7 linked regions of the Homo sapiens genome follow. The protein of the gene in region 4 purifies or fractionates together with the protein of the main gene of each other region. This does not show direct contact. Each region holds a gene or a part of one and is shown on either strand. Other genes may lie near its edges.

Region 1 (3,500 bases), on a different chromosome or scaffold from region 4:
GTGGGCCAGGCATGATGACTCATGCCAGTAATGCCAGTGCTTTGGGAGGCCGATGTGGGAGGATCACCTGAGGCCAGGAGTTTAAGACCAGTCTGGCCAGCCATAGTGAGACCCCATGTCTACAAAAAAGTAAAAAAAAAAATGAGCTAGATGTGGTGGCATGCGCCTGTGTTCCTGGCTACTTGAGAGGCTAAGGTGGGAGGATTGCTTAAGCCCAGGAGTTTGAGGATGCATTAAGCTATGATTGCACCACTGTACTCCGGCCTTGCTGACAACAAGACACTCACTCTCTGTTTTGAAAAAGAATGATTTCTGTGGCTGCATAAGTATTTCATCATGTCACTGTTATGTAATTTATGTAACCATATACCCTTATTTAATATTTTACCATATAGGTTTTCAATATTATAACTGAAGGATATTTTCAATTATATTAATAGTGTGAATTTCTAAAAATGAAATAATTGCTCAGTTGAAAATTACTTTTTTTGATTAGTTTTGTAAATTGTTGTGTAATCAGATATTTCATGCAGTGGATGGGCTTGCCCTAGTTGCCATATCCTCTCCAGTTTTTTAGTTTGATTGTTTTGATTATCAGTCAGTTAATTGGACGATAATTATAGTTTATATTTTTTTGCCTTTTTATTGGTGGGGGAAGTTATATAGTATGGGAATAGTGTTTTTATCTCCTTGTAATGGCAAATTATCCCTGTAAAGTCATTTGTTTATTGAATTAAAGTGACTTTTTTCATGAACTTTTAGAAATTAATCCAAAAGATGGTTTTGAAAGATTTTTAAAAATGCATTTGAGAGTCCAGTGTTTTATTTGGCATAATGTTATTAAATTTAAAAAAATTACAGCTCATCATGTCACTACAGTGAACAGTACAAATTGTAAGAAGACACCACCTGAAGATTGTGAGGGTCCTTTTAGACCTGCAGAAATCCTGAAAGAAGGAAGTGTTCTAGATATTCTGAAAAGCCCTGGTAAGATAATTAAAAGATAAGCCTTTTGATTACAAACTCATGATCTCAATTTAATGTCATTTTGTATTATACTTTAGGCTTTTAAAAATTTCTGACTAGTTTGGTAGGAGATTTACTTTTGAATAGAGATGTAGTTAGGTGTAATTCTTTTGCTGGAAATATCTTACAAGCCAAAGGACTCTATACTAAAATGAAATTTCTAATAGGCAAGTGTAGGAGGAGGAAATGGATTCTCCATTAATAGAGGTAGGTCAGTGAGGAATAAGAGTAAGTAAACCTGATGATACACATAGACATGTCTTTCTCTTATGAGAGCACTGAACTGCCTTCTTGAATTATTCCCCAGTTTGGTAAATATGGAACAAGGCCAAGTGGAAAGCATCTGCTGAATTGTAACATATACATAGGGAGCAGTACTCACTTGAATTGAAGCAAGATTTGAAAGCTAGTAGGTAATAATTAGAAAGGGGATAAATAGTTCTCAGATAAGAATAATTTTTTGTTTGAAAACAGGATGTTCATAATTCCATTTATGATACATAGTATAAGAATGTAAAACTTGCCAGGCGCGGTGGCTCACCCTTGTAATCCCAGCACTTTGGGAGGCCAAGACGGGCAGATCACTTGAGGCCAGGAGTTGAAGACCAGCCTGGCCAACATGGCGAAACCCCATCTCTATTAAAAAGAGAAAAAATTAGCTGGGCGTCCTGGCATGCACCTGTAGTTCCAGCTACTCGGGAGGCTGAGGCAGGAGAATTGCTTGAACCTGGGAGGTGGAGGTTGCAGTGAACCGAGATCGAACCACTGCACTCCAGCCTGGGCGACAGAGCAAGACTCTGTCTTTAAAAAAAAAAGAAAGGAAAAGAAAAAAAGAATAAAAGAATGTAAAACTGTGAGATAATCTAATAGCTCAGAAAGAATTTAAACGTACCCACCAGATGTGTCCATGTGTAATAAGATAGGTTTTCTTAAAAAATAAGGTTGGCTTTTACAACAGGATTTAGGAGGATTCAATTTTTCTGGTCCAGCTCTCTCATTTTATAGATAAGTATACTGCCTACAGGAGTCCAGTAGCTTGGACAGTTCCATGCAGTTATGGTAGAACTCCAGAGTGCTTGTGCTGGAATTAACCAAGTAGTAGGCAAGCCTCAAATGTGTATAGTCTGTCTTGTGTATCTGGGGTTACACTTTGCATTCATGATGCCAACCTCCCCCTGCTCCCTTTTTACTTCTTAAATAGGAAATGTTTGGGGAGAATCTTCATTTGACTGAAATTAGGAAAATCTGAAAAAGTAGAAGAAAAAGAAATCTGTAATGCCTTGAGATGGTTACTGTTAATATCTTGCCAATCTTAGTGATTTAAATTAATCATAAGCAAAATAACACGTTGCCCACTGGGAATAACTCAAGCATGTGGTATTTTGTCCTTAAGCTAAAAATAGCTCTAGGCTGGATTATTTTGTGGAACTAGAAAACCTCTAATAACCTTCTACATCTTCTCTCCTTTTAATTTCTTTTTCTTTGGCGGGTAAGGCTGGAGAAACAGATCACAGATGGTGGTGTTGTGTGTAAGACAAAAGTTAACTGGTCCTAAGTAAACAATTACAAAAGTCATTCTCATGAGTAAAATACAGCTTGAGTGAATGAACTCAATGACAGCAGTTTTGGTAACAGAAGGACTTGCTCAGCTGATTTTACTGAAGGTAGAGAATACCACAGCAGTAGGTTATGACTGGACAAAATTCAAAGATGACATTGAAGCCATTTGGTGTAGCCAATGGAACACTTAAAAGAAGAAATGGATGAAGGAGAAAGAGGACTGCGAGTATTGTGTGTTTGTAGAGAGACAGAATATAGCAAAATGTGGATGGCAATAATACATATCAGTAAATTAGTACCATTGAAAGCATCAAACTAGAAATTCCTTGAAGGAGAAGGTGATATCCTGTAAACAAAACATCTTTTGTAGAATTTTAAATGGTTTAAGTGTAACTTATTAGGTAATTGATAAATATGATTACTTAAGTGAAAAACAATTCTTAAGTAGTTCATCTTGGATTGTAGTAAGTGTGCAGTGAGGTAAACGTCTTCTCAGTAATAATAATCAAATTAATGCTTTGATTTATAAAGCTTCTCTAACGTTGCACTCTCTCCTTCGTTCATTGTAGGTTTCGCATCGCCGAAGATAGATTCTGTTGCTGCTCAGCCCACCGCAACAAGCCCAGTAGTTTATACAAGACCAGCAATAAGTAGCTTTTCTTCTAGTGGAATTGGGTTTGGGGAGAGTTTAAAAGCTGGGTCATCATGGCAGTGTGATACATGTCTACTCCAGAACAAAGTTACAGACAACAAATGCATAGCCTGTCAAGCAGCAAAATTGTCACCCAGAGATACTGCTAAACAGACTGGAATTGAAACACCAAATAAAAGTGGCAAAACAACTCTTTCTGCATCAGGGACAGGCTTTGGAGACAAATTTAAACCAGTGATAGGCACTTGGGATTGTGATACCT
Region 2 (3,500 bases), on a different chromosome or scaffold from region 4:
TGATGTTTAAGGTGGGACAGTTTGAAGAGGCACCACAGGTTTGGTTACCTGGTGGAGAGATGTCTTTTATTTTTGTCTGAATGGGAATGGTTTGTATATCAGCAATGACATCTGCTCTACCCTCTAATGGAGGGTGATGGCTCTGATGGGCATCTCTGCCTGTTGCTAAAGGCATCTCTTTGTTTAAATGCAGTAGAGAGTCAGTTGGCAAATTTGCATGTTCTTGAGAATTAAGGGACACTTGTTGATTTAAAACACATTCACTTTCTACTTTGTTTACAACCAGTTCATTGGTACAAGAAAGTTCATTCATCTCACAGGCTATGCTCTGTTCATCTAAAAGTGGAATATCATCATGTGAGGTCTGTATAACTTTTTCTGACTCAGGTCTGTAATCAAATTCTGGGGATGGTAGCAACAGAGCAGTACCTTGCTTGGGTTTTAATACCTCACTTACAGGACTTATTTGATCCTCTGGCATTAAACTCACAATGGATTTTCTTTCAAACAGAAAATCATTACATGATGCTTCATTTAACTGGGTGTTGCCTTCCAGATTTCTCTGGATGCTGACTAAGGAGTTACAGTCTTTAGTGTAAAAAGATTTACTTAATATATTGGGCTCTACAGGGGTTGTCTGTCCTGCCTCTTCAATCTGCATCAAGGAGGAAAAACTGCTTTCTTCAGAGTGTCCACCAGGATGGCTCATATTAGTAAAAGTTTCTTTATGGTCCTCAGGGTTTGTCAAGTTACCTTGAACGTGTACAGTAATTTTCAAATCATTTTTATTTAACATTACTTCTGTGGCTTCAGTAAAAGAATTGGGCATTAAAGAACTAGAGTTCCCTGTATGGAGACTGTCTTGAATGCAGTTATTGTGGATATTTTCCTTTGGAGAAACAACAGGCTCTTTTTCACCAGAACAACGACCACTAATCTCCTTTTCTGGTTCCCTGGCATTAAAAAGAAAAGGTCCACCTCTTTCACTCCTAGGAATCAAAAGCCGTTCCTCATTTTCTTCTCTAGAAGCCAAGTTCTTCCCTTGATCATCCCCCCTATAAAAATAAGAACTGTCTGTCTTTTCAGCAGATCTCTTTAGCAAACCACCACCTTCAAAACCACAGTTTTCTAAGGATATTGTTCTGGATTCTGGACCAGACAAGTCTGATGTGAAACATGAAACTTCAGAATTTTCTTTCAAAGGGCTTGTGGCTGTGGGACTATCATGTGTAGAACTGGGTTGTTCATTATGGTGGCCATGAAGCTGTTGGTGATTGTCATCTGCTTCACAGACCAGGTTTGGTTTACACAACTCTTCCTTCCCATTGTCCACATTAGAAATGGCACTGTTTCCTGGTAATGACAACCAAGGACAACTTTTTAATTCTTCACATTCTTTTTCTTTAGGAGTTGCTTCTGTTAATACAGGGTCCACAAAGGTTAAAGGTTCTGGGGTAACTAATGTGCTGGTTTCTGAAACCTCATCACTGGTCATGATTTTGTCTACTTCTTGGAATTCACCGCATCCAGCTGAGAGATCTTTACTCACATTGCCATTTTTGTGTCCTTCATTATTATCCGTCTTAGTCCCATTGACCTTCATACCTTGTACTTCGGCGGATTTTAGCAGAGTTTCAGCTGTAATCTGTACATTTCCTTCTGAATAAGAGAAATAAATCCAAATTAATATGCAGTAATAAAAAATCACTTGGTCTACCTTCATGCATTTTATTATGCTATGCTACCAAGGGCAACAGAAGACCCAACTCAAAAAGAAAACTGGAAAGTTAGCATGCTATACCATTGATTTTGTTCTTCTCTGAAAATATAACAGAGGGCCAAAACTATATCTGGCAGAAACGTAATTTTCAACAAATGCCTCTTGCTGAAAGTTTAATACAGAGTTCACAGATCAATGCTGGACAACTGAATACAACATAGAAATATGTTCCTATGTTGTATTCTCATTCAGTCTTAAGAGGCTTTCATTTTAAAACATTAATAAAGCAGACTCACAATAACAGCTTATTTTACTAGATGACCATGTTCTCAGTACTTGAAATTAGATGTCATCGATAAAATTAGTCCTTGGAAAAAAACAACTATACCTAAAACTTTATTTATTTATTTACCTATTTATTTTTTTCAGACAGAGTCTTGCTCTGTTGCCCATGCTGGAGTACAGTAGTGCGATCTCAGTTCACTGCAACCTCCACCTCTCAGCTCAAGCAATTTTCCCGCCTCAGCCTCCTGAGTAGCTGGGATTCTAGGTGCCTGCAACCACCCCCAGCTAATTTTTTTTTTTTTTTTTTGAGATGGAGTCTTGCTCTTGTCGCCCAGGCTGGAGTGCAGTGGCACGATATTGGCTCACTGCAACCTCCACTTCCTGGGTTCAAGCAATTCTCCTGCTTCAGCCTCCTGAGTAGCTGGGATTACAGGCACCCGCCACCATGCCCGCCTAATTTTTGTAGTTTTAGTAGAGACGGAGTTTCACCATGTTGGCCAGGCTGGTCTCGAACTCCTGACCTCAGGTGACCCGCCTGCCTCGGCCTCCCAAAGTGCTGAGACTACAGGCATAAGCCACCACGCCCGGCCCGCCCAGCTAATTTTTTGGGGGGGTTTTTGTTTTTGTTTTTGTTTTGAGACAGAGTCTTGCTTTGTCGCCCAGGCTGGAGTGCAGTGGCGCAATCTCGGCTCACTGCAACCTCCGCCTCCCGGGTTCATGCCATTCTCCTGCCTCAGCCTCCCGAGTAGCTGGGACTACAGACGCCCACCACCACACCTGGCTAATTTCTTTTTGTATTTTTAGTACAGACAGGGTTTCACCATGTTAGGATGGTCTTGATCTCCTGACCTCATGATCCGCCCACCTTGGCCTTCCAAAGTGCTGGGATTACAGGCGTGAGCCACCACGCCCGGCCTGCCCAGCTAATTTTTTTGTATTTTTACTAGAGACGGGGTTTCACCATGTTGGCCAGGCTGGTCTCAAACTCTCGACCTCAGGTGATCTCCTATTAGTTCTGTTCCCCTAAGAGAACCCTGACTAGCACACTATACACATGAACATGGGTATATGTACACATGATTTTATATATATATATAAAAAACAGGACAACTGTATTAAACAGAAAAAGCAAAATGCAAATCTATTTAAAGATCGGCCAGGCATGGTGGCTCATGCCTGTAATCCCAGCATTTTGGGAGGCCGAGGTGGATGGATCACACGAGGTCAGGAGTTCAAGACTAGCCTGGCCAACATGACAAAAACCCATCTCTACCGAAAATACAAAAATTAGCTGGGCATGGTGGCACATGCCTGTAATCCCAGCTACTGGGGAGGCTGAAGCAGGGGAATCGCTTGAATCCAGGAGGCGGAGGTTGCAGTGAGCCAAGATCATGCCACTACACTCTAGCCTGGGTGACAGAGCAAGACTCTGTCTCAAAAAACAAAGAACAAAACAAAACAAAACAAAACAATCTAATTCCTGAGTTTGATGCAG
Region 3 (3,500 bases), on a different chromosome or scaffold from region 4:
GCATGGAAAAGCAATTTCCTGAAAACTATTGTAACTACAAAAAAAGTGAATACCCTTTCCCTGCGTCTGCCTGGTATCCTGTGCATATCTCTATCATAATGTTTATTACATAACATATTTATCAGTTTGACTCATCTGTCCCCTCCCCTCCCATAATTAAACTACACTTTTTCTTTTTGAGACCGGGTCTTGCTCTGTTGCCCAGGCTGGAGTGCAATGGTGCAGTCATAGCTCACTGTAGCCTCAAGTGATCCTCCCACCTCAGCCCCTCGAGTAGCTGGGACTACAGGTATGCACCACCACACCCAGCTAATTTTTTTTTTTTTTTTAACTCAGGGTCTCACTATGTTGCCCAGGCTGGTCTCGAACTCCTGGACTCAAGCGATCCCACTTTACCCTCCCAGAGTGCTGGGACAACAGGCATGAGCTACCAAGCCTGGCCTTTAGACCACACTTTTGAAAATAGAGATTGTGTCCTTCTTCACTGTAGTAGCCCAGTATCAAGTACATAGTAGGTATACAAAAACATTTGTTCAAAGAAAAAGGAAGCAGGCAGGGAGATAAAAATCCCCCTGGAGTAAATAACATTGTTAAGTGTTTGCCTTAGCCTTATGTTGGTGGAGCAGTTTTTCTGTTTACCATTTATTTTATTAAGTTTGTTATAACTTAAGCTGTTGATTTTAGGGCATGGCCATTATGTTTATTATATATTATTACAGATAGACTATTTGTCTGGGTTTATATTATCAATAAAAGGATTATAATTGCCAAGATAATATATTGTCCTTAATAAGAAATCTCCTTTTATTTATTAAAGCATGGAAAGAGAAGTTTAGAGGTCATGGTTAGTAGAAAGAAGGAAGTGTGTGTCAATAGATAATTTTCTATTGACACACACTTGTTGATAATTAAAATAGATCATTTCAATTAAAATAATTTTCTATTGACACACACTTGTTGCTACATTCTTTTTTAATCTTTCTCTGTCTGCTGGGACTACTAAAGAAACTTGAACTCCAAGCATTTGGCCTCACATTTCAGAAGATTATCCTTGAAGATACAACCAATAAAGTCCTAAAGTCTCAGACAATGAAAACTATACTGAACTTGTGGTCCAGTTAAAGTGAGCACTATGGTAAGGTAGTAGAATATAGTGAAATGAGAGTGGAATTTATAATTAAAAGATTTAGGTTGAGATCACCCTACCATCACTTAAGAGATTTGTATGAAGGATGGTCCAAGAACATTTAGAACTCTGACTTACTGCCCCAAGTGTAGTCTGTTTCTCCTCCAGAGATAGAGTCCCCAAGCAGATTGTTAGTTGATATTTTCTCCATAGTGCCCAGATCCCAAAAGGTAATTCACTTCATAAAAAGTTTCTTCCTCTAAACTTATCAATAGTGATCTTAAAGTTGTGGTAATAATAATGGCTACTGCTTGTTGAATACTTCCTAAGTGTCAAGCCCTTTACATATTTTCTCGTTTTATCTCCACAACAACTGAGTGAAATAAATACTGTTCTTTTCCCCATTTTACTGATAAGAAAATTTAGTGGTAGATTTGGAATCTAACACCAAAAATGCAAGCTTTTAGCCACTGCTTAGCTGTTAATCACAGTGAAGAACTGAGAACTTTATCATCTAGTTTTCTTCTGCTTCCATTTCCCATTTTTAAATGAAAACGATGTTACCCTCCAAAGACTTATATGAGAAAAACTTAATTGTGAATAATTTTAAGATGTCCAAGTAAAAGAGCTGGGAAAAAAAAAAAAAACCTAAAAAGTGGGAGGGTTTTTGTTCTGTTTTCATGTATTTCAGGCCTAGATGAAATTTAATTAACTTAATACCCATTATGAAATTGTTTTTCTCTCCAATTTTCCTGAACATAAATGTTTTGGTGCTTCCAGACATGGGCCATGTTCAGCCCATTCTTCTGCTTTCCTGAATTCTCTAACGTCATGGTTGGAAAAGGTCTGATTTTTTTTTTAAAAAGAAAATACTTGAGGAAAGCAGTTGACAACTGCTTGGGCAGGAGATGGTTCTGTACTGTATCCCAGGATCCTGTCTGCTGTTTCAGTTTGTCTTATGTGAGAGGCAGTCTTTTTTTTTTCTTTTCCCCAAAAAAACAACACACTCAACTCATCCAGCAACTATTTAACAAATGTTTTTTGAGTACCTGTTATATACACTAAGTGTCTTCCATATTAGCTTATTTACTCATCACACTAACCTGAGGAGGTACTCTTATTAGCCCTATGTTTCAATGGGTAGACTGAGGCACAGTTGAATAATAAGGTACTTTCTCAAGATCACACAGCTAGTAAGTGGCAGAGCCATCTGTGAACCTATTATGCTATACTGTTTTCATAAAACCAAAATCTCATGAAGACACACAACTGAATAGAATAATTACAAGTGTGATAAATGTTGTTTTAAAAGGGTAAAGGGCTATTGCAGCATTATTTTAGACTGAGAGGTCCAAATTTAAAATTATTGCTGTTGCTCTCACCTATTTTTTTCCTCTTGTATGGCCTGAAACATTTGAATGCAGGAAAACTACAGAAAATCCTTAAAATATTTAGGAAATAAGACATTTATGCTTATTTACTTTCCTTATTCTTTTTGAGCTAAGCAAAGAATAACTGTTATTGCAAATCTTTCTTAGAAGTATTAGTCCATTTGTTTTCCTTAGTATTTCACAGTAAACACATTTTAAGCTTTGTAATTCAAACCACATAGTGCTTCATCAGTATCAGTTCTTTTGGTCTAGCATTTATAACTATAGATGGATTTTAATAGGGAGGAAAAGTTACAGTCTTCACTCATGGTTTTTAACTTGATACCATCTGGCCTGTAGCTACTCTAGCCCCAAGAATAATTTCTTCTCTAGAGATTTAAGGATAAGGGCATTCGAACAACTAAGCCGTGCCTAATTAAAATACTAATTTGAAAGGCAGGCTATAATGTGTGTGTGCTTGTTTGCTTTGAAATCTTCTGCCTTAAATGAATTGCAAGTTTTGATCTCTAATGAAACACTATCATTTTTTAACATACGTTTATCGAGACGCTACCATGTGGTAAACTCTGCCTCTTTCTCACTTCTAGCTTTTTTAATCTATCTCTCTTTGTAGGATTCTGTCTTCATTTTTGTTTCTCCCATTTTTACTCCTTCTATTTCTCTTATTTTCCTTCGCTTCTGCTATGTCCTTCCCTTCTTTGTCTTTTTCTCCTAAAATTCCAGTCATTTGAAAAACTTAGTTATAGTAAAAATTTGATTAATTGAAGAGGAATTTATATTCACTTACTCTACCTGCCCTTTTGCTTATTTTCACCAGGAGTTTTTGTTTATCAGGCCTTATAAAGGCCTTGCTTCAAAATAAGCAAAAGGGAGAAACTGAGAAGCTGGGAAATGTACCCTTATTTGAATAGCTGGAAGAAAGATCAAATGCATTATTTAATTTATGCAAGTCTTCCTCCTCAAATAAATAGTTGGCTGACATA
Region 4 (3,500 bases):
TGACCTCAGGTGATCTGCCCGCCTCAGCCTCCCGAAGTGCTGGGATTACAGGCGTGAGCCACCGCGCCAGGCCTTATGCTTTTAAATAGGGAAAAACATCTTACCCATTTGAATGGAGATTTCTCCAATTGCCCATGTGGCATTGTTGCAGACTGAAATGAATTCTGGATTTAGGTTGGTTCCCAATATTGGCATGAAATCAGCTAGAAAAAAAATTTAAACTATGTAGTAAACTTTTCAATAGCAGTATATTGTACTTTAAAGGAAATCTACTAGGTGGAAACAGAAATCTAAGCAAGAAATAACAAGTTTCACCATTAAAAAAATTACTGCAACATCAATTTTAAAATTGGTGGAAATAAACTAGGCAACTGTATTTAAAAATATTTTTTAAAGGAGTTGGTAATGTTTATCTTAAGAAACTGAAGAAAACAGTATCTGGCCAATGAACTTTCAAATAATGTGGAACAGGAAATACAAGTTTGGGTATATTTTACATACCACTAAAAAGAGTTGGTCAGAGTAATCTCTTGTAATTAGACTAAAAAAAAAAAATCAATGATTTTGGCTTTTAAAGCAATTTTCACTCTTGTGCTCTGATTGTGGTCTCTGAATAACATTTTCCACTAAAAAAAAATGGACTCTCAGAAAACGTCACATTACAGGCAAAGGCAGGAAATGTGCAAAATAAGTGGACTATCTTGTCATAATGAAAGGACTCGGGAGCCAACTTAAGTTCTCACTGCAAGCAGTACAACAGCTTGAACATCATGAAGTCACACTAGCACTAAAAACAATCAAACAAAAACAAAACTCTGAAACATCAAAGATACCTTTGGAGGATGATAGGAATCAATTCATTATTTTGAAAATTGGTAAATAAAAAAAAGAATCAAGTATTTATCTTGCCTCTGCTATATGATTTTACCTCAGGATAGTAATTTATTGATATGGGAAATGTCTCCCTATATAAGTATCTTCATTATTAAATGAAGAATTAGAATATCATAATTTTTTAAACTCCTAATAAATCAGGAGATGTAAGCCAGGGTTTCTTGATCTCAGCAATATTGACAGTTTGGGCCAGATCATTTTTTTGTTGGGGGGAAGGGGAGCTGTCTCCTGTATTATAAGATGTTTAGCAACATCCTTTGCTTCTACCCACTAGACATCAATGGCACCTCTCCAGCATCAAACAAAATGTCTCCAGACACTGGCAAATGTTCCCCGAATGGCAAAATTGCCCCTAGTTGAGAACCACTAATTGAGACAATCATCAAGATTGGTAACATTAAAAAAAAAAAAAGGAGGGACAACTAGACACTATGTACACTAAGTACACAATACCATCTATAAAGTCTTAAAAACAAAACAACGTAAATCTCATTAAACCTCAGTCTCTGTATCCAAACAATTTACAGTAAATACAACGGACAGAGGAACATGTTAAAGACAACAAAGATGCAATCAGTAAAATCCACAGTAAAGGAAACTCTTTAGAATAAAAAACATGGTTTCTTTAACAAAAAACAATTGTAAGAAGAGATAGTATAGTATGTACTAAAATATTAAGACTTCAAATGCTGTGTTTGAGATTTGCTCCAAAATATCTGAGATCTATGTGTCTCACCACTGACAACAGTATATAGGAAACAGGACTGGACAGTTGAAGCTGGGTGATAGGAGGTTTGTTACATTTTTTCTACTTTTGTACGTCTTAAACACTTTATAATAAAAAAATTAAATCCTTTCATATAAGTTTCAACTAAAAAACTAAATTAGGTGGTAAATATGAGAATGATAAGCTTCCCATAAGAATTCATTACACTGTTAGGTTTAAACTTGATGGTTCTTAATATATCATAATTAATGTTAATTATGTTAGTTTTTTGAGAAATGGTTATCCAAAAGCACAATTATATCAGATGACAAAACATTCAATTAATATTTTAAATTAAGGTTTAAATGAAGTATTAAAATAATTTTTTTTGAGACGGAGTCTTGCTCTGTTGCCCAGGCTGGAGTGTAGTGGTACAGTATCAGCTCACTGCAGACTCTGCCTCCCGGGTTCAAGCGATTTTCCTGCCTCAGTTTCCCAAGTAGCTAGAACTACAGGCACAAGCCACCACGCCTGGCTAAGTTTTTGTATTTTTAGTAGAAGCGGGGTTTCACCGTGTTAGCCAGGATGGTCTTGATCTCCTGACTTCGTGACCTGCCCGCCTTGGCCTTCCAAAGTGCTGGCATTACAGGTCTGAGCCGCCGTGCCCGGCTGTATTAAAATAATTGTTACCCAACATGCTGAGATGCAGAAAAGGGGGAAAAAAATCCCATAACTCATTTATAACCCATAGGTTTAAGAACAATTCCGGGTACAACATTCAAGGAATTTCTTATCATTGTCACAGAAGGCCAAGACAAATGCTATGCTAGTCTCGAATCTCGCACTCCTGACCTCAAGTGATCTGCCTGCCTTGGCTTCCCAAAGTGCTGGCATTACAGGTGTGAGCCCCCAGGCCCAGTCTCAGTTAAAGTGACATTTGTTGGAAGTTTTCTGCAATATCTGAAAAAGTATGCTGGTTTGCTAGAGAAGAAAACCTGATTATTACTATTTCTGTGTACCTCTACCAAAAAGGTGGCTACTCAAAAAAGAATCTATTAACTAGTCCATGGTACCAAGGCTTCCCTGGTGGGCATGTCCTTTACTCTAAAGTATATTACTAAGCTTTCCTCCAGTCACAGGAGTACCTAAAAAGCTGAGATGATGGCAAGCTCAAGGAAATATTAGGGGTTCCTGCCATCTTGCCTGTTTCAATCACAGCAAGTTTACTTTAACCAATAAAGTGTACATTTATAAATGTTGGGATTCCATGCAATTTCAGTTTAATAATAAAAAAACAAAGCTGATGTAAATGTTAACTTTAAAAAACCATATTCATAGCAGTAGAAAATATTCATACCTATACAAGGCTTAACATGCTGAAAGCAAGCTTTTGTGAGGTCACCTAACAGGGCAAAAGAACTCTGTCGAACTTCTGGCATTTTATCCTACAAGAAATAAGAAGAAATTAACCCCAATGTGACACAGAGAAACAGGCTTCAATTCATTTTCACCTTTCAAGTCTCACCTGCATGCACTGATACATTAGTGTCAGGATGTTACTTCGGGCTACCAGCTGTTCAATGTTGCCTCCAAGTCCTTCAGCCAGGCCACTCAGTAAATCAAGAGCCACTATCATAAAATCTTTATCTGGAGCTTCATATTGATCTGGTTGAGCATTGTTTAGCTGAAATTAGACACAATGTTTTTTGTAAGTTTGGTTTTAATTAACTACTTAAAAAGTCTGTATACATTATACCTATCTTTAGAAAAATGTCCACCATGTCAAGAAGAGGAAGACATTTTAAAAAAATTACCATGGCTTGTGCAAGAGTCTTCTGTACTAGGTTTACACAACGCTGATACACAGGTTCACAGTACGGAAGGAATCCAGACTGCAGTG
Region 5 (3,500 bases), on a different chromosome or scaffold from region 4:
CAGCCTGGGCAAAAATAAAAATTTAAAATTTTTTAAAAAAAAGAAAAGAATACACTCTTAATTTTCTTTCCAAATGGATAAGGCCTATTTTTGTTGTTGTTGTTGTGACCTAAGTACTATTTTATTCCCTTGATCATTTTCATGCGCCTCTTTTTCTGAGTCCTTTTATCTTTGCTTTGGTTCATCAACGAAAACTGTATTCACAGATGGGGAATAAACGGTGGAATTCCTTAGAAGCACCGGATTCAGTTTTGTTTCCATGGGACTTAAAGTCTACTTATATCAGATGCCCTTCATTTTTTGATAAACTTGTAAGTACTGTTTTACTATTTGATCTTTTAAAGATTGTTATAAACTAAGAAGTCTTGTAAAGAGTTAAATGCCTTGAACTTTTACCTTCTAGACCAAAGAGCCAATTGCACTCCAGGCTATTGAAAATGCCCATGTCTTATTATATTTGGGAGACTCTGTCACAACAGATCATATATCACCTGCAGGAAGTATCGCTAGGAATAGTGCTGCCGCTAAGTATTTGACAAACAGAGGGTATGTGTACATGGCTTTAGAGTGTTTTTGTTTTTTCTTGTTTCTTACTGATTAAGAGGCTTCTATTGGTCTTGTTCCTTTTTTCCAGTAAATACATGCTATCGTAGGTAATCTGACTGCCAATGTGTTTGTCTTAAGCAAGAATGGAGAGTGGCGGGGTGGGGAGGCGGGGGGTACCTTCTGTACTTGTCTTTGCTTGTGACTTTAGAAAATGAAATTGCAATTTTAAATTGAGCCCTTATAGTCTAAATAAACAGCTGATTGGAAATAAGATTTTTCTTTTTCAGTGCTACTTTATTGAAAAGTCAGCTTGGTTTTACCTACCAAATGAAGCCTGCTCATTTGGTTAAAACCAGCTTCCCATTATTGGAGTAAGGAATTTAAATGTGTATTTTATGGGCTATAACATGTACGTGTGTGAGGCTGGGAATGATATGTACAAATCAAAAGACAATGAATTTCTGCTTCATGAGCCTAAAATTTTATAGGAACAATAAACGTAAAGGCCATTTATATTGGAGATATAAATTTAAAACTGGTAAGATTTCATTTCTACATGATTAATCATGTAGAGTTGCCCTGTTATCAAAGGACTGTTTTGACAATAGAGACAAAGTTTTGTTAAAAGCAGGATTTGTAGTACTGCTACCTGATTAGCTTATTGGATGCTTGTTTGATGCTTGAGTAATTAAAATGACAAGCTTTTTCATTGAAATTTATTTATTTATGTATGTATTTATTTATGTATTTATTTTTGAGACAGACTCACTCTGTCACCCAGGCTGGAGTGCAGTGGTGTGATCTCAGCTCACTGCCACCTCTGCATCCCGGGTTCAAGCAATTCTCCTACCTCAGCCTCCCAACTAGCTGGGATTACAGGCACGCGCCACCATGCCCAGCAAGTTTTTATATTTTTAGTAGAGACAGGGTTTCACCATGTTGGTCAGGCTGGTATCAAACTCCTGACCAAGTGATCCGCCCACCTCGGCCCCCCAAATTGCTGGGATTACAGGCATGAGCAACCGTGCCCAGCCAAAATGTCAATGTAGCTTGTGTTGACATGTGATAATATTGCACAGCTTTTATTATAAAGTGGTGAGAAATAAGTTTCCTTTCCTGTAAATATTTTTTTGGTTGTGATTTCCATCTTCATCATAATTGTGACATACCTCCAAAAAAGAAAAACAGTCAACACTTCTCTCAAATGTACAATTTTTGTAATTATTATGCCTCCTGATATGTATTTCTTAGCACATTTAATCCAGTAGTGCTCATCAATTAGAATTTTCTAAAAATAAAGACACTCAAACCTCCTACCACTCCCATCCTGAAGTAAAAATTTAAATGCACAAATTTAGAATATTGTTGCCTCTGCATAAAAGACCAAATCAGAGGCTGATAAAAGTCAGTTGTTGATTGTTGAGATACTTATGTTCAGTTATTTTTCCCTAAAAAGTTATATATGGTCACTAATCCAGTAGCAATACCCCCCGCACCCAGATTATGATTTCTAAATACTGTTTCCCACTATAGTGAACCAGTGCTTCATGGAGAAATTATTGATTCCAGATCTGGGACTGGAAAATGTACACAATTTTACCAAAAATTACCAAGATTACCAAAAATAAAATTACAAAGATTACCTGATGGTCACAGACCATCAGGCTTCTGTCTAAAGGTCTCAGGGTCAGGACCAGCTCATTAGCTTGAAAACTGGTAAATAATCAATTCTTTAACCAGCCTTTCATGTATGGAATGTATTTCAGCATAACCAAATCATTGATGAAGGAAAGTTTGTCATTTGTTTGTTTGTTTGTTTTTAGAGACAGGGTCTCACTCTTGCCTGGGCTGAAAGGCAGTGGCACTTGGCCCTCTGCTGCTTGGAACTCGTGGGCTCAAGCACTCCTCCTGTCTCACCCTCCTGAGTAGCTTGGGACTACAGGCTCGCACCGTCATGCCTGGATAATTTTTAATTTTTTGTAGAGATGAGATCTCCCTTTGTTGCACAGGCTGGTCTCCAACACATGGGCTCGAGCATTCCTCCCACTTTGGCCTCCCAGAGTGCTGGTATTGCAGGCAAGAGCCAACATACCTGCTGGAAAGTTTTTCTTTATAGAACTTTTGTACCTAAAAAATGAAGAAGGAATGGGTGAATTATAGTATCACTATTTTACGGTCTCTAATAAGCAATCTAGACCACAATGAGCAATCACTGGTAACATTCCAGGAAAAGACAGTTGGCTATCTTGTGCCTCCTAATAGAAGTACATATGACCTATGAAGCATTGTTGCCAAAAATTAAAAACCCAAATCTTATCAAACCACTGGATCTGACATGTGATTTACAAGAACAGAAGGCAGAAGAACATGTTAAATGATTCATGGAGATGCAGTCAACACAATGTGGGTACAGAAAACTATACAAGTAACTTTATTGCATCAGATAGAGCACAAGCAGGAGGAAGGAGAGGGAACATATACTGTCATTCTTCAGTATAGATGTGGGACTGGTTCCAGGACCACCCATGTATACCCAAATCCACACATACTGAATTCCTACAGTCAGCCTTGCAGAAGCCACATATATGAAAAGTCGTATTTGCAGTTTTCTGCATCCTGTGAATAATATATTTTCTGTCAGTGTTTGGTTGAAAAAAAATCGATGTATAAGTGGACCCACACAACTCAAATTCATGTTTAAAGGTCAACTGTAGATTAAAACACTTGAGATCAACTGAACACATTTATGAACTGCATTTGGATCCTGATTTGAACAAACCAACTTAGTTTGGAAATAATCAGTGACAATATTGACTATCTGATGTTAAGAAATTATTGTGATTTTTTTTTTTTGGTGTAAAGATTTTTTTTTAAGAGTCTACATCTTTTAGTGAAATGTACTGAAAAGTATGCTGTTAAAATTATCTCAGTTTTGCTTCAAAATAATCTAATGG
Region 6 (3,500 bases), on a different chromosome or scaffold from region 4:
TTTCATACTTGCAAATATTCAGGTACAGAAAGGGAGAGGAACTTTTTGACTCAATAAGGCTCTCTTTGTTTATTTATTTTTTGAGACAGAGTCTCACTCTGTTGCCCAGGCCGGAGTGCAGTGGCACCATCTTGGCTCACTGCAACCTCCGCCTCCTGGGTTCAAGCAATTCTCTTGCCTCAGCCTCCCAAGTAGCTGGGACTACAGGCACATGCCACCATGCCCGGCTAATTTTTGTATTTTTAGTAGAGATTGGGGTTTTGCCATGTTGGCCAGGTTTGTCTCAAACTCCTGGCCTTAAGTGATCTGGCCGCCTTGGCCTCCCAAAGTGCTGGGATTAGAGGTGTGAGCCACTGCACCTGGTCTATTTATTTAGTTTTTTGAGACAGGGTCTCACTCTGTTACCCAGGCTGTGGAGCGCAGAGGTGTGATTACTGCTCACTGCAGCCTTGCTCACCTGAGCCTGGGTTCAGGTGATCTTCCCACCTCAGCCTCTTGGACAGCTGGGACTACAGGCATGCACCACCATACCTGGCTAATGTTTTGTATTTTTTGTAGAGTCAGGGTCTTGCCATGTTGCCCAGGCTGGTCTCAAGCCCCTGGGCTCAAGCACTTCTCTCACCTCAGACTCCCAAAGTGCTAGGATTACAGACATGAGTCACTGTGCCTGGCCAAGGCTCTCTTTAAGTGGTCACTAAATGGCATTTGTAACCAAAAGTAATGTGTGTGGTGGTTTTTTTCTTTCCGGAAGATTTTGTCTACTGGAACAAAAGCGTGTTTTAACTGTAGTAATAACTATAGTGTTTTAACATCCATTTGAAATTGGTAAGGCATAGAATTTGTGTGGTTTGCTAAAAAACTACTTTCAAGAATATGTATTTGTGAAACTATTATCCTTATTCTTCTCTACCACCCCACCTAACTAATCCGAGAGTAATTGAGTATAGTTCGAATGACCTGGTGACAGTAGACGTGGTATAGAGGTATAATTTGAATATGCTTTAGCCTGTACTGTGAGTTAGCATCTTTTCTCTTTCTCTAATATTTGTATAAAACAGCCATTTTCTGAAGAATCTGTATTCATTGCTCTAAACTTCCACCAAAATTTTTGGAGATGTACAGCCATGGTTGTTTTATGTGATAGATAGATATCACTGATAACTTCAAAGTGTTCTGAAAGAGAGTATTTTGAGGCAGATCTTAAAGGAATCTTAGTAGCCTGTCCTGTATATTTAGTAGTTTCATTTGTCCACCCCTACTAACCAAAATTAGTAGAAGTTGTAGAGAGCTATTGAAGGAAAGACCATCTCTTCATAGGGCCAATTACTTAAGCGACTCAGTTATAAGTTTTTAATTTAAGTTGTAAGTAGGAGATAACTTTTACAGAGACAATCTTTGGGTTAGATATTACCTCAAAAGTTTTATAGTTCAGTATGGAAACTGAATAGGCATGCTTCAGCATGGGTGTATGCAGCTTTTTGATGGAAAGCATCAAAAGCACAAAGCAGATGAAGTAAAGTCATGCTTTGATAGACTAAGTTGGCATTGTCATGTTTGGTTTATCACATGTCCATAGGAATTTTCTTCTTAGATATCATATCAGAAAGGTCTTGGGTTGATATGGTTTGGCTATGTCCCCACCCACATCTCACCTTGTAATAATACCCCCCGATTTGTGGCAAGGTGGGGCCAGGTAGAGGTAATTGAATCATGATGGGGGGTTCCCTCATACTGTTCTTGTGGTAGTGAATAAGTCTCACAAGTTCTGATGGTTTTATAAATGTGAGTTCCCCTCCACAAGCTCTCTCTTGCCTGCCGCCATGTAAGACGTCGCTTTGCTCTTCCTTCGTCTTCCGCCATAATTGTGAAGCCTCCCCAGCTATGTGAAACTGAGTCAGTTAAACCCCTTTCCTTTATAAATTACCCAGGCTTGGGTATGTCTTTATTAGCAGTGTGAGAACACATTAATACATGGGTCATGGAATATCAGCTTCAAACTTCTTTGCTAGTACTTTTCCTTTTTGGAATTTATTGATTCTTTAGCCTGGTTATAAAACCTAGGGTTTTTGGCTTTTCTCTGGTCATTACTGATTTATCTTGAAAGTTTAGGCATTTTTTGTGTGTGCTTATGCTTGCACCTTCCAGTCAAAACATGCTTTTGAAAGGAAAGCCTTCTAGAAAATAGAAAATATTCCTATACAACTTCAGTAGATGAGTTCAGTCTAGGAATACTCTGTGCCTTGCACTGATAGAAACTGGGAGTATGTAAATAATGAAAACCAAAGATCTTTCTCCCAGAGAGTGTACCAATGTAGCTGTGTCATCCAGTGTAGTAGCCACCAGTCTAGTGTGACTATTTAAACTTAAAATTAAGTAAAAGTTAAAATCAGTTTCTTTTTTTTTTTTTTTTTTTTTTGAGACGGAGTCTCACTCTGTCACTCAGGCTGGAGTGCAGTGGTGCAATCTTGGCTCACTGCAACCTCCACCTCCCGGGTTCAAGCAATTCTGCCTCAGGCTCCCGAGTAACTGGGATTACAGGTGCATGCCACCATGCCTGGCTAATTTTTTGTATTGTTAGTGGAGATGGGGTTTCACTGTGTTAGCCAGAATGGTCTCAATCTCCTGATCTCGTGATCCACCCACCTCAGCCTCCCAGAGTGCTGGGATTACAGGCATGAGCCACTGCGCCCGGCCTAAAATCAGTTTCTTATTTGCACTTACCCACATTCCAAGTACTGTACGGTACAAATATAGAACATTTCATGTCTTTGAAGTATTGGAGTCTATGTTTGTGATTTTGTGACAGTATTTCTGTTGCCATGGTAGTCTGTTATGTGGTGGCATTTCTCCATATTTTGATTAGTTTCTTGTCTTGCCAGGCCTTGGGCCAAAGTTGATAGTTTGATTTAGGATGTAAAATTATCAGGGTACTACTATATTTTCTAATTACAATAGTTTTTCCAAAGTTTTTCAGATATTTCTTCAGCATTCTTTTACAGTGATTGATTGCACTGATGTTTATGGAGGAAATGGAAAGTAGGTTTTATAGATTTTTTTTTTTTTGTGGCAAAACATTCAAAACATAAATTTAGCATTTTAACGTTTTTTTTTTTTCTGAGACAGGGTCTTGTTCTGTTGCCCAGGTTGGAGTGCAGTGGTGCGATCATAGCTCACTGCAGCCTTAAACTCCCAGGCTCAAGCTATCTTGCCTCCTCAGCCTCCCAAGTAGCTGGGATTACAGGCATGAGCTACCGTGCCCAGTCATTTTAACCATTTTTAAGTGTGCAGTTCAGTGGTATTACATACATTGACATTGTTGTGCAACCATCACCATCATCCATCTTCAAAACTTTTTCATCTTGTAAAACTAAATCTATGCCCACTAAACAAAATAGGTGCCCATTTGCTCCCCGCCCCAATCCCTGGCAACCACCATTCTACTTTCTGTCTCTATGAATGTGACTATTCTTGGTACCTCATGTAAGTGGAATCATACAGTA
Region 7 (3,500 bases), on a different chromosome or scaffold from region 4:
CTTTCTTATATTTTTATTGTGCTTTTCCTATTTGAGAACAAATTATTCTTTGTGTGATTTTCTGAAACTGCATAGGCAACCTGCCTTAAGTTTACTATGTGGTGTGAATGGCCACAATTAGGAAGCTATACCTTGGATTCTAACTTAAGAGGAGATATTAGTGGAATCTTTTCTTTTTTGAACTTTTGTGGTTTTGGTTTTTGGTTTTTTGGGGTGGCGTTGGGGGGTACAGAGTCTTGCTCTATCACCCAGGCTGGAGTGCAGTGGGGCGGTCTTGGCTCACTACAACCTTCATCTCCCTGGTTCATGTGATTCTCTTGCCTCAGCCTCCCGAGTAGCTGGGATTAACAGGTGTGTGCCACTATACCCAGCTAGTCTTTGTATTTTTAGTAGAAACGAGGTTTCACCATGTTTACCAGGCTGGTCTCGAAGTCCTGACCTCAAGTGATCTGCCTGCCTTGGCCTCCTAAAGTGCTGGGATTACAGGCATGAGCCACTGCACTGCACCTTGCCTCTTTTTTGAACTTTTGATTGAATCATGTCTTCTTCCCAGTCATGAAACTCCCTTACTTTCCTGGTCTTTTATTCCATAGGTTAATTTTTGTTGATTTTGGACTTTATTTATTATTATTTTTAATACTATGTTTTTTTTTTTTTCTGACAGAGTCTCACTCTGTTACACAGGCTGGAGCACAGTGGCACAATCTCGGCTCACTGCAACCTCCGCCTTCCAGGTTCAAGCAATTCTCCTGCCTTGGCCTCCTGAGTAGCTGGGACTACAGGCACGTGCCACCACACCCAGCTAATTTTTGTATTTTTAGTAGAGATGGGGTTTCACCATGTTGACCAGGCTGGTCTCAAACTCCTGACCTCAGGTGATCCACCCACCTTAGCCTCCCAAAGTGCTGGGATTACAGGCATGAGCCACCGCGCCTGGCCGATTTTGGACTTTACATAACTGGAATCATACAGCATACATTCTAGTTCTGTATTTTGTTCTAAATGTTTGGAATTCATTCTTTTTGGATGTAGTTGAAATTTTTTCATTCTTGTTGTGTAGTACTAAATGGAATCTTCTTCCATCTGAATCTTGTTTAACAAAGGCTATGCTGTGATGAATGTTTGTGGAAGAGACAAAATATAAAGGTCTTATATTTTATTTCCCTGGAGTTTAAGTTCTAAAGACATTCAAGAGTAGTCAGAGGACCTTTAGAGTTAAAATGATTCTTTGGACAAAATCTTAACTAGTGCCATATTCTTTCACCAGGACGAAAATGATGATGACGATGACTGGAACCCCTGCAAAGCAGCAGGGGTGTGCCTCATGCTTCTGGCCACCTGCTGTGAAGATGACATTGTCCCACATGTCCTCCCCTTCATTAAAGAACACATCAAGAACCCAGATTGGCGGTACCGGGATGCAGCAGTGATGGCTTTTGGTTGTATCTTGGAAGGACCAGAGCCCAGTCAGCTCAAACCACTAGTTATACAGGTGAAACTGAGGGATTTTTGGAGTAGAAAGTAGGATATTTATTGTTTAAACTTAAAGCATATCTTTATTTTTCAAAACAAAACTGTAAATTGTCATCTACAAAGATTATCTCTAGATACTTGTTTACTTTTAATGAGGGTAAAATATATTTCTTAGGTTTTTAATTACATAAGTCAGCATGATCCAGAGACATGTGAAAGAAGCCAAAAGAGAAAAGTCATCTTTAATTTCATTGCCCAGAAATACCACTCTTAACTCTGTATTTATCCTTGAAGCTTTTTCCTATGTGCATGTGTGTGCAACAGGCTCTTCCTGTGCAGATTGTTTTATAACTTGTTTCTTCATTTAATACTATGTTGTAAACATTTCCCAATAATTTTTTTTTGCACCTAGCACTGATTCCCCATAATTTTTAATAATGGCATTATTATTCTATTCTTTGGACAAAATGTCCTTTATGTAATGAAAATGTTCTTATGGAAATGTTGTGCTTGTTTTGCTATTACAAGTCGTGCCATTGCACTCCAGCCTGGGCAACGAGCGAAACTCTATCTCAAAAAAAAAAAAAAGAGTTTGTTATAGTTGAGTTTAGTGCTTAAAGAATTCAGTCTTCAGTCTTTCTGGATATAGCCAGATGCCATCATAGCTGCATCCTGAGAATTCTGAGTATCTGAGTAATTCTTTTTTTTTTTGAGGTAGGGAGGCGGGGGGATGGAGTCTTACTCTGTCACCCATGCTGGAGTGCTGAAGTGCAGTGGTGCAATCTAGGCTCACTGCAACCTCCAGCTCCCCAGCTTAAGCAATTCTCGTGCCTCAGCCCCCTGAGTAGGTGGGACTATGTGCCACCATGCCCAGCTAATTTTTGTATTCTTAGTAGAGAGACCGGGTTTCATCATGTTGGTCAGGCTGGTCTTGAACTCCTGACCTCAAGCAACTCCTGACCTCAAGTGATCTGCCTGCCTCAGCCTCCCAGAGTGCTGGGATTACAGGCATGAGCCATCATCATGCCCGGCCTCTATCTGAGTAATTTATTGCAGACTACTAAAAGCATTTACACCAAATTCTTAATATAAAACTCTAAACTGGAGTTTTGAAAGATATTTTCAAATATTTTGAAAGATGTTTCACACCATGTCCTGTAAAATTACAGAAGTATCTTGGTGACTTTTTTGAGTTAAGCCATCCATCAGTATTTCTTTCTCTGGGGTAGTAGTTAACATGAATTTTAATCTTTGTTTTGCTTTGCTAATAACTGTTATATTTTCAGGCTATGCCCACCCTAATAGAATTAATGAAAGACCCCAGTGTAGTTGTTCGAGATACAGCTGCATGGACTGTAGGCAGAATTTGTGAGCTGCTTCCTGAAGCTGCCATCAATGATGTCTACTTGGCTCCCCTGCTACAGTGTCTGATTGAGGGTCTCAGTGCTGAACCCAGAGTGGCTTCAAATGTGTGCTGGGTAAGGGATTTTCTTGCTGGTGAGAAAAGGAGCTTGCCTGCGCCACTGGCAAGAAAGTAGAAGGTGTGGGAGAGAAATCAATCTGCCTCACTGGAATGCTTTTTCTGATTTTCTTTCTAATTTATTCAATTAAAATGTGGGGGAGATTCCAACTGCAAGAGCCAGTGGGAACACTTGACTTATGGTTACTGGTTCCTGAACCACTTAGAACAGTCATGGTAACCCAGTGGGGAAACTATCTGGACTTGGGTTGCTTTCTTGAATTGCTTGGGGACAAGAAGTTTTGATTAAGGTAGAGAGTTTTTGGCTGTAAGAAGTATCATTGCTGAGTAGAGGGCAAGAGGGAAGGAAGGTAGGCAGCCTAAATGCTGAGTCAGTATAGGCTAATGTAATTGGTTAAGGGGAGGAAGTTCAAATAAGGAAGGAATGGGGCTAAACGTCTTTCTGTGAAAGGAAACAGAAATGAAATGGCAGGTATGGTTGAAAGTACTCTGCTGCTTAGAGAGTTGTCAGATTATCAAACAGGATGATGAGAGATGTCAGATTATC

Evidence for each region.
Region 1: the proteins of TNPO1 (region 4) and NUP153 purify together in Homo sapiens (co-immunoprecipitation; 3 studies listed by BioGRID and IntAct, with this or other methods). This does not show direct contact.
Region 2: the proteins of TNPO1 (region 4) and PRR14L purify together in Homo sapiens (affinity purification with mass spectrometry; one large-scale study listed by BioGRID and IntAct). This does not show direct contact.
Region 3: the proteins of TNPO1 (region 4) and STOM purify together in Homo sapiens (affinity purification with mass spectrometry; one large-scale study listed by BioGRID and IntAct). This does not show direct contact.
Region 5: the proteins of TNPO1 (region 4) and IREB2 fractionate together in Homo sapiens (co-fractionation; one large-scale study listed by BioGRID). This does not show direct contact.
Region 6: the proteins of TNPO1 (region 4) and TNPO3 fractionate together in Homo sapiens (co-fractionation; 2 studies listed by BioGRID). This does not show direct contact.
Region 7: the proteins of TNPO1 (region 4) and KPNB1 purify together in Homo sapiens (affinity purification with mass spectrometry; 2 studies listed by BioGRID and IntAct, with this or other methods). This does not show direct contact.

What each region holds. Positions count from the first base shown.
Region 1 is NC_000006.12:17,637,426-17,640,925, reverse strand, and holds part of NUP153 (nuclear pore complex protein Nup153), read left to right. Parts: intron 1-861; coding exon 862-987; intron 988-3,155; coding exon 3,156-3,500. UniProt on the Homo sapiens protein: Component of the nuclear pore complex (NPC), a complex required for the trafficking across the nuclear envelope. Functions as a scaffolding element in the nuclear phase of the NPC essential for normal nucleocytoplasmic transport of proteins and mRNAs.
Region 2 is NC_000022.11:31,715,633-31,719,132, forward strand, and holds part of PRR14L (protein PRR14L), read right to left. Parts: intron 1,660-3,500; coding exon 1-1,659.
Region 3 is NC_000009.12:121,363,751-121,367,250, reverse strand, and holds part of STOM (stomatin), read left to right. Parts: intron 1-1,005; exon of another isoform or gene 1,006-1,135; intron 1,136-3,500. UniProt on the Homo sapiens protein: Regulates ion channel activity and transmembrane ion transport. Regulates ASIC2 and ASIC3 channel activity.
Region 4 is NC_000005.10:72,893,161-72,896,660, reverse strand, and holds part of TNPO1 (transportin-1), read right to left. Parts: coding exon 3,415-3,500; intron 3,285-3,414; coding exon 3,126-3,284; intron 3,046-3,125; coding exon 2,958-3,045; intron 204-2,957; coding exon 105-203; intron 1-104. UniProt on the Homo sapiens protein: Functions in nuclear protein import as nuclear transport receptor. Serves as receptor for nuclear localization signals (NLS) in cargo substrates.
Region 5 is NC_000015.10:78,490,216-78,493,715, forward strand, and holds part of IREB2 (iron-responsive element-binding protein 2), read left to right. Parts: intron 1-206; coding exon 207-311; intron 312-403; coding exon 404-546; intron 547-3,500. UniProt on the Homo sapiens protein: RNA-binding protein that binds to iron-responsive elements (IRES), which are stem-loop structures found in the 5'-UTR of ferritin, and delta aminolevulinic acid synthase mRNAs, and in the 3'-UTR of transferrin receptor mRNA.
Region 6 is NC_000007.14:129,045,112-129,048,611, reverse strand, and holds part of TNPO3 (transportin-3), read left to right. Parts: intron 1-3,500. UniProt on the Homo sapiens protein: Importin, which transports target proteins into the nucleus. Specifically mediates the nuclear import of splicing factor serine/arginine (SR) proteins, such as RBM4, SFRS1 and SFRS2, by recognizing phosphorylated SR domains.
Region 7 is NC_000017.11:47,666,919-47,670,418, forward strand, and holds part of KPNB1 (importin subunit beta-1), read left to right. Parts: intron 1-1,267; coding exon 1,268-1,492; intron 1,493-2,759; coding exon 2,760-2,951; intron 2,952-3,500.